2 separate regions of the Homo sapiens genome follow, and region 1 is linked to region 2. The links come from fine-mapping of genetic effects on gene expression. Tissue or cell type: unexposed skin. Region 2 holds a variant in brackets; the other region holds the start of a gene. All regions are shown on one strand. Distances are between the middles of the regions. Region 1 holds the start of STRBP (spermatid perinuclear RNA binding protein). Region 2 has its middle 12 kb from the start of CRB2.

Evidence for each region.
Region 1: STRBP starts here. The variant in region 2 is fine-mapped to the expression of STRBP in unexposed skin (GTEx, PIP 0.94).

The regions. Positions count from the first base shown.
Region 1 is chr9:123,266,433-123,270,817 of GRCh38, forward strand. It overlaps STRBP (spermatid perinuclear RNA binding protein), which reads right to left and starts at 2,154. Exons shown (of 19, transcript NM_018387.5): 1 at 2,004-2,154. RefSeq lists silencers at 1,880-1,929, 2,100-2,579 and an enhancer at 1,980-2,480.
Region 2 is chr9:123,341,930-123,346,314 of GRCh38, forward strand. No RefSeq gene overlaps it. Among named protein-coding and RNA genes, the nearest start is that of CRB2, 12 kb to the right of the region's middle. RefSeq lists an enhancer at 1,763-1,822. The variant A/G (reference allele first, on the strand shown) is at 2,687.

The DNA of each region.
Region 1 (4,385 bases), 75 kb before region 2:
TCCCCCCACCCCTCAATCTCCAGTTTCTCTCAGTATGGAATTTAATCCTCTCCATTTAGTTATTTTTCCAACTTCTGCACTCTGCCTGATCTTCCTTAGACTCTCAGTGACCTAAAAATCTTGGCCCCTTTCATCTCTCAAACTCAAAGTGTTCCAATCTCTCCCCATACTTCCACTCCTTGGATCTTCCATACTCTCTTAAGCAACCTGTGTTCCTAGCTCTCTCCAACTTAAGCAGTCATTTCCTGCCCTAAACCTGGGCATCCTATTTCCCCCACCACCACCACCACCACTCCAATCCATCACCTATGCCTTTCTAGTTACAGACATGTCCACATACACCTCTGCCTTGCCCTTCCCTTACTCCACTATAGGTATTAAGCATTCTTCTACATCCTCTACCCCAAAATAGCCTGTCTACCTTCCTTCTTTCTCCCTACCTCCCTTCTCCCTACAGCACAAAATTCAGTGCCCCAAACCTGTGCTTCCCTCCCTCCACCTACTGTACTCCAGACCTGTCCACCTTCCCCTCCAGTCTATCCCGTTGTCCCCCTCTACTGATTTCGTTCTCACCCTCCCCTCCACCTTCCTCCTCCCCAACCGCTCCACACTTCCCGCCTCAGAAATCTTTCCTTCCATTTGTCCCCACACTTTACCTGCCACTCCAAGAACACTTCCCTTTCCCCACCCCCTTTTGCCCTCCACCTCACACACTCCACGCCACCCCACACCTGTCCCTCTCCCCCAGCTCCTGCCCCTAACGTCCTCCAACACTTGCCAAGAACCCCTCACCCTCCGTCCTACCTCAAAATTCCCTCTCTTGCTGATCCCACCTTCTTCCATACTTCCTGCATAAACACCCTCCATTTCACGCACTTCTCCCGCTATCCTTTAAATGCCCCACACACCTCCTGCTCTCCATCCCCATCACCCTTCTCCTACTGTCCCCACCTCTCTCTGCAAGCCCTCAAACTAAGTCTCTGCCCCAATGAACTTCCCCCTTCCACCCCATACTCCTCTTCCCTGAGCACCAGATACCTGCCTTTTTATCCTTACATGTCAACCCCCTCCCGCCTCCCTGCAGGCTCCCCTATACACCTGGCCACACACTCCCTCACACCCCTCGCAGGTCTCCTGGAGCCCCTGGGCCTACCCTTCATTTCCCTATCACCCCAGAAGCCTAGGCACCCTGCTCCCCTCCCTCCCTTTCAGGCGCTCCCTGCCTGCCCTCACTTCCCCCTGCCCCGACCCCCTCCTCCATCGTTCCCCTTCACGGGCGTCCCGGTGGCCTTCCTAATACCCGCCCCACTCCCTGCCCCTGGCACGCAGCGCTCCTTCCAGTCCTGCTCGAGTCCCCAGTCTTCTCCCTCCATTCCCACCCCACTCGTCCCTGCCCTCCCCAAAAGCCCCCTCATTCCCTCTTGAACCCCACAATATAGTGCCCCCCCCCACCGGACGGAATGTCCTCCATCTCGCACTCGCCTGGCCCAGGGGGCCCCCCAAACCTGCCTGAAGGCTCTCCTCCTCCATTGGGCCGGATCCCTCTGCACCCCTATTTACCCCCAAATCTGCCCACACCTTCCGCCTGCCCCCCGAAGCCTCTCCCCAGCTCCTGCCCCCAATGTCCTCCAACACCTGCCCCGAGCCCCGAGCCCTCCGTCCCGGAAGACCTCCCGGCACCGCGTCCCCCAACCCTGCCCACGCCCTCCCCTGATCGGCCGGGACCCCGTCCCCGCGAAGGTGAGGAAGGCTGCCCGCTGCCCTTGCCCGAAGCGGCCGGGGCACCGCAGCGGCGGCGGCGGCGGCCACAATGCCGGAGCCGCGGGGCCGGGATTGCTCCCTGCTCTCCGCCTCGGCCGCCACCGCCGCCGCCGCTGCTAAGGACGCACAACAAACAATGCGGGGCCCGGGCCGGCTCCGCCAACCGCCTCAACCGCCGCCTTAACCGCCGCCCGCCCGGGACGGCCCGCCGCGCAGGCGCCCGCCCCGCCGCCGGAGCCTACCCGCGCCGCCGCGCTCTGCCCGCGCCCGGTACCCGCTCCCGCTCCGCCGCCGCCGCCACCTCGCCCGCTCGCGTCTCCGGCTCCTCTGCCCAGCGGCGGCGGCTGCGGCGGCTGCTGCCCTGGTGGCGCTCGCGGCTCCGGTCTCCGCTTCGGCGGCGGCAGCGGCGGCAGCGAGCACGTGACACCGTCGAGCGCGCCCATTGGCCAGGCCAGGGGGCGGGCCCCGCGGCTGCTGGGGAACGGAAAGCCCGCCCCCTCGTTCGCCGCGCGCCCCCTCCACGCGCGTCCTGCCGCACCTGAGAGCGCCGGCCAGCGCCCGCCGCCGCCTTGCTGTGCCGCCGCCTGCGCCAAGTGCGCACCTGGGAGCGCGCAGGGAGCACTCGCCGCCGGCGGCCTTATGCACCTGCCAGCGGACGCTTACGTAAACTGCGTCCCCGCCTTCCTCCCGGCCCCAGGCCCCCGCTCGCTGCAGCACCTGAGCCCCGCTGCGCTAGCGGCGTAACTGCGGCGGAGCGGAGACGAGCTGCGCTGGGAGGCTAGCGAAATGCACGGAAACTTCGTAACTTCCGAACCTGGGAGCTGCGCCGAGCCGCGGCGGCTAGCCGCCTTCCCCGGGCCCCGCACCCCAGTGCGGGATGCCCCCCAACCCCAGCAGCCACACAAATGGAGTAGGCGTCGCACTGCCTCCCGAGGTAGAGGGGCAGGCCAGTAGGCTTTGACTTGTGCCACCGCCCACCTACTTGCTGGCTGTGTGACCTTGGCCAAGTTACCAAGAACCGTTCTGAGCCTCAGTTTCCTCATCAGGAAAACTGGGACAATAATTCCAATTTAGGAGCTGTTGGGGAGATGGCATAAGACAATAGGTGTGAATCCTGGCACACAGCAGTCGCTGAACAGAAGCTGCTACAATCACCTCTCCTTCACCTGCCTATAATGAACCTCGCTGGGATTGAGTTTGGGCCCAGGACCTCTCTGACCTCCTTATGGTTGGGTCAGACTTTGGCTGAACACCTACCAGCTCTGTGCCAGGGGCGGCGCTGGGGAAGAATTAAAGGTTCGCTTTCTATTCTACAGTCCCTGGCCTCAAGTTCTTGGTGCCCAGCATTCTGCTTGCCAGTATACAGTCCCTGCTGTATACCGGGGGGTTTGCAGGCTGCAGGGATGCACTGGCAAATGAGACAATGTCTTTGCCCTAAGACAATTCCCAGCCTGGAGCAGAAACGACCTGACCACTCAGTGCCAAGACAGAGGACCTTGAACAGCCCAGGGGTTGAGGAGGGACTCCCCACAACAGCCCCCTTGGGGCCCCTTTTCATCTTTCTAACACACCAGGCTCAAATATTTTAACAGCTCTGTTTCATTCACAGAATAAAGTGTAAAAAACCCAATTTCAACTGAAAAGGCCTTGGTGATCTGGCCTTAAGCTTCAAGGTGCACGCCCTTCCCTTTGCCCCTCCTTCAGGCCAATGTGACCCTCCAGCCACACAGAACTACAGTACTGTTGTTTCCAGAGTATGCCCAGGTGTGTAGGAGCCTGAGTCTCCTGAGACAGATGCCAGGCCGCAAATCCCTTTCTAAACCCTCTCCCCACCTCTGACCACTCACACCTTCCTTGACCCTCCTGAAAAAAATCCTGGGTATCCTTATCAATCAGCTCAGAGTATATTCTCTGGAGATCCTTGGCTGCCTCAGACACATGGTCTAAGCTCCCTCGGCTTGAACATAGTCCTGTTAAGCTATATGTATTCTCATGGCACTAGATTGTAATTGTTTAGCTGTCTGTCTCCTCCCTGGTCTCTCAGTCCCTTGAGGACAGGGTCATCTTCCTGCCTAAGTGTGTTAGGGAAGACTACACGTGCACATGACATGAGATCATTAAAGCTGGGTTTTGTAGGATGCCCATAAGTATCAGAGGGAGAAGAGGCGCCACACTGTAAAGATCCAGATTCACTGCACACTAGCTGTGTGATCTTGGAAAATCAATCTCTCTAGTCTAAGTTTACTCATCTGCCAAGTGAGACTAATAGTATTGCATATTGTAGGGTTGTTAGAAGGATTCATTGCAACCGTATATCTAAGGCACTCAGCACGGTGTCCAGCACTTGGTTACATTTTTAATTTTTTTAAAATAGAAGAACAGCATGGCATTAAGGATTCAATAGTATTTCTTGTTTCAATATCTTTATTGGGTTTGTAACTCCAAACACTGAGACAAAAGCATGCAAATTATATAAAAGGAAAGAAAGTAAAAAGTTAGGCCAGACGCAGTGGCTCACGCTGGTAATCCTAGCACTTTTGGGAGGCCGAGGCGTGTGGATCACCTGAGGTCAGGAGTTCAAGACCAGCCTGGCCAATGGGGCAAAACCCCATCTCTACTAAAAA
Region 2 (4,385 bases):
CCTGAAATAATCTTTCTCGTTATTTCTCCTAAAGCTCTAATATAGTTCTTGGAGGCTTCAGGCCCCAGCTGGGACGTCTCACAAAGTGAATCTGGGGTAGATTTTCAATAAACTCCTCACTTATATCCTGCTGCAGCCAAGCCCCCAGGACCCCATCTCCTTGGAGGAGCCAAGTAGGGTGGCTGCAGCCTCTGCAAGTGAGCTGACTCCTTTGGGGCATAATTCACACTTTCTCTTAGCCTCTGTCCCCCGAGGCCAAGCCTACATGGTCCATCTCTGCAGATTTTCTGCCCACGAGTTCCCTGGAATCCAGAGAACACTCCCAAGAGAGACAGTCCTTGTCACACCACTCATGATCTCCCAGGCTGCTTCTCCCCAGTGCTTAGCACATGGAGATGCATTCATTTCTTGTGAGCACGTTTATTGACTGTGTGGCTCCCCTGCCAGCCTGAACACTCCGCAAGGTCAGGCTCTGCCTCTGGTTCCCCACTCAGTCCCCAGCACCCAGCCCAGACCTGGTGCATAGAAGATGCTTGTCACAGAGATGCTGTGTGGGTGGATGGACAGATGCATGAAGAATCCGTGGTGTGGAGCACACGGGGAAGTGGCCTTTGTTCTTCCATATAGAACGGCAGAGGCTGGAAGACCAAGGATCAGAAATTCCAGAGGTGAGTTTCAGCTCTGTGAGCCCAGACAAGTGGGATCCCCTTTTGGGGGACTCGGTTTCCTTACCTGTGCCATGTCTGCATAATAGTGCCTACCTTATGGAGATGACTCTGAGCATCCAATGATAGGAACTGGGACACCCAGAAGGGAATGATGGCCTGCCAGAATTTGGGGCTGGATCAGTTGCACAGATTCATGTGCCACTCACTACCCTTCCCTGACACCCCTGCTGCCCTGGGCAAGACTTAGGAACTTGGTGACTAGCTAGTTCAGGTGACAGAGGGGCCTGGATGCTCCTTATGAGTCTCCCTTTGGGAGATGAGCCCCTGATTGAGCCTAGATCCTATAGAAATACAGTGTGGGCCAGAGGCCAAGTCATGCATGTCTCTGAGCCTTGGCCACTTTGTCTATAAAAGGCACCATAATATAGGATGAGTGTGGTGGCTTATGCCTGTAATCCTAGCACTCTGGGAGGCCAAGGTGGGAGGATCGCTTGAGCCCAGGAGTTTGAGAACAGCCTGGGCCACAGAGGGAGACTGTGTCTCTACAAAAAATAATAAAACTGATGATGTGTGGTGGCACATGCCTGTGGTCCCAGATACTTGGGAGGCTGAGGCAGGAGGGTCGCTTGAGCCTGGGAGTTAGAAGTTGCAGTGAGCTGTGATTGCACCACTGCACTCCAGCCTGGGTGACAGAGCAAGACCCTGTCTCAAAATAAATACAATATAACACAATAATAAAGCACTGAAATAAAATGAAATGGGTGATAATAGAACTCTACGGGTTGTCCCGAGGAAGCAGAGGGACCTGGAAGTAGATCCCATGGCTTGGTGCCCACAGCTATTAGGATTTTTCTTGTCAGTCGTGGTAGATTTTGGTTCTTCCATAAAGAGGAACCCATTTAGGTGTTTTTTAGAAATACCTCTCTGAATTGAGATTCCGTGACTCTGACTTCCTGGCTGACCGGGTGAGTCTGGCTCAGTTCTCAGTGTAAGCCACACCCCAGTCTTCTACCTCCCACGCAGCCTCTCTTCATTTTGTCTCAAATGGCCCTCTGCTTTCCATGGGAGGCCTGGGCTCAGTCTGGGACTAGGATCTGAGCTTAGACTGGGGTGGAAACTAGGCTCCGTCTGTAAGCAGTATTGAGGTTCAGTCTGCCTGGGAACGATGAGTCTGCGGATGACCTGGGTTGGGTCTCATTCAATGCCAGGATTGTCTGTGACAAGTATTTCAGCCTGCGTTCCTGGAAACAGATTCTGGACTGCACGTGTGTTTCTTGGGGCATGTCCTTGGGAGATCCACCTGGAAGGAAGGAGCAAGGCTGACTGGGCAGAAGGAGACTGACCCACCGTGAGGTTGCAACTGAGGTCCCTACGAGGACCCCTGGAGCTGACGATCCCCTAGGGTTTCCTAGTTGAGAAGGAGCCGTGCCTCTGCAGCCACACATGGGTCAGGCACTGGCCACAGGCTGTCCCTGGCATGGGGTATAACCCAGTGAGGTAACAGCAGTCCCAGCAGCTTGGCCCTGAAGAGGGGCTCTGGAGCACAGAGTAGTCCCCACAACCCACCCCAAAGCTCAGGCTCACACCAGTGTTTCAGTCAGACGCTGGATGTCCCCACAGGACAGGATCTTTGTCCCCAGCATCTAGCACAGGGCCTGGAGGGGCAGCACAAGCCTCAGCCTGCAAATGGAGGAAGAAGAGGAAGTGTGAAGTGGTGCCCTGTGCCGCATTGTGTGGGCCAGCTGCTCAGCCTCCCCCAGAGGTTCAGAGAGGGCTGGCCACCTGCCTAAGGTCACACAGCTGCTAAGGGCAGAGCCAGGATTGGAACCCAGGACTGGCTGAGTCCAGAGCTTATGGTCTCTCAGCCACATCAGACTGTGAGCTTATTAGAAAGCAAGGGCCGGGGGAAAGGAAAAGAGCTGCTCTTCCCAGTTCCCGGAGCAGGGCACTGGAGCGGGGCCCACCAACTCTGGCCACCTCTGGCCAACCTGCCAGGACCCATGCCCAGGGGAGGGAGC[A/G]GCATCTTGCGGGCGGGCAGCCTTTCTTGGGTAATGAGGCCCAGCCGGCAGTTTGCAGGCCTTACCATGTGAATAATTCATTTGCAACCAAGTCTGGGAATTAGAAACCGTTACTGGATGATTTATTTAACAGGGGCTGCTGCTGGGGAGAGGGGAGGAGGATTTTGAACTATAAAAGGGAAGTACATACCTTGTAGATAGATTCAGAGAGTCCCACAGACCTGGGTTTCAGTCCAGGTCTGCCTTCTACCAGCTGTGTGACCTTGAATAAGTGACTGGACCTCTCTGTGCCTCAGTTTTCTTTGTTGCAAAAAGGGGATAATAATAGAGTTGTTAAAAGGATTGAATGAGTTAGAATTTGGAGAGCACTTAGAATCATGCCTGGTTCATAGTAAGTGCTCAGTGTTTGTTGTATGAATACATGACAGCCTATATAGAATAGGAGCTTAATTGAGCATGTACTTTGTGACAGGCCCAGTTCTTTTTTTTTTTTTTTTTTGAGACGGAGTCTCGCTCTGACGCCAAGGCTGGAGTGCGGTGGTGTAATCTCGGCTCACTGCAAACTCTGCCTCCAGGGTTCACGCTGTTGCCTCAGCCTTCCGAGTAGCTGGGACTACAGGCACCCGCCACCACGCCTGGCTAATTTTTTGTATTTTTAGTAGAGACCGTGTTAGCCAGGATGATCTCGATCTCCTGACCTCGTGATCCACCCGCCTCGGGCTCCCAAAGTGCTGGGATTACAGGCGTGAGCCATGGCGCCTGGCCGGCAGGCCCTGTTCTAAGAGCTTAACATGCGTTATCTCATAGCACTCATGTAAATTGGATATTATTATTATTGCATCTATATTAGAGATGAGAAAATAGAAGCTCAAGCTGGAGCTCAGACAGCTAGTCCTGGCAAAGCAGGGATCTGAACCCAGCCAAGACTCCCTGACTGCAGGGCCCATGCAGTTAACCACATTCCCATATCACAGATCTGATGCACAGCCTAGCACAGACCTGGCTCTTATTTTAAGAAAAATGTCCCTGTCCCCGCTAAGCATTGCCACTTTCATCATGACATTTGATTCTATTAACAAACCCGACAGGTGGTCAGGGAGCATGTGGTCTCTCTCAGCTGAGGAAGCTGAGGCTCAGAGAAGGACGTGAATCGTTCAATGTCCCACAGCCCCAGATGAAAGCCAGGCCTCCCTGAGGCCTCCTAGCAATGATCACAATGTGTCTTATAACAGCTCAACCCCAGGCATGTCTGCTTACGCCAAGACTGCACTCCTGGAAGGCAGAGGCTGTGTCTTGGTTTTGCCGGATTCACTAAAGGTCCTTATTGAATAGCAGAGGAAGGAAGGAAGAGAGGGAGAGAGGCAGGAAGGGAAGGAGGGAGCAAGGGAGGGAGGTAAGCAGGCTGATATAGTAGGTAAACTGTCTCTTGTCATCTTTATGCTGCTCCTGCCATAGCTCCCCACACACCCCCCCACCCAGTAAAACATACACTGGAACACATGCTCACACGCTCCTGTCCAGGGTGAGGTCAGTGTGGCCCCTGAGCCAGGCTGCCTGGCACGTGGCTGTGAAATCGACCCAGGCACTTCTGAGGGGCCAGGTGTCCTTGGCCTCCCACAGGAGGTGGCACTTTGCCAGACCCTTGCAGAGGGTGGCGGGGTCTCCAGGCCTGTCCCTGGATGTGAGCACAGGGACACGG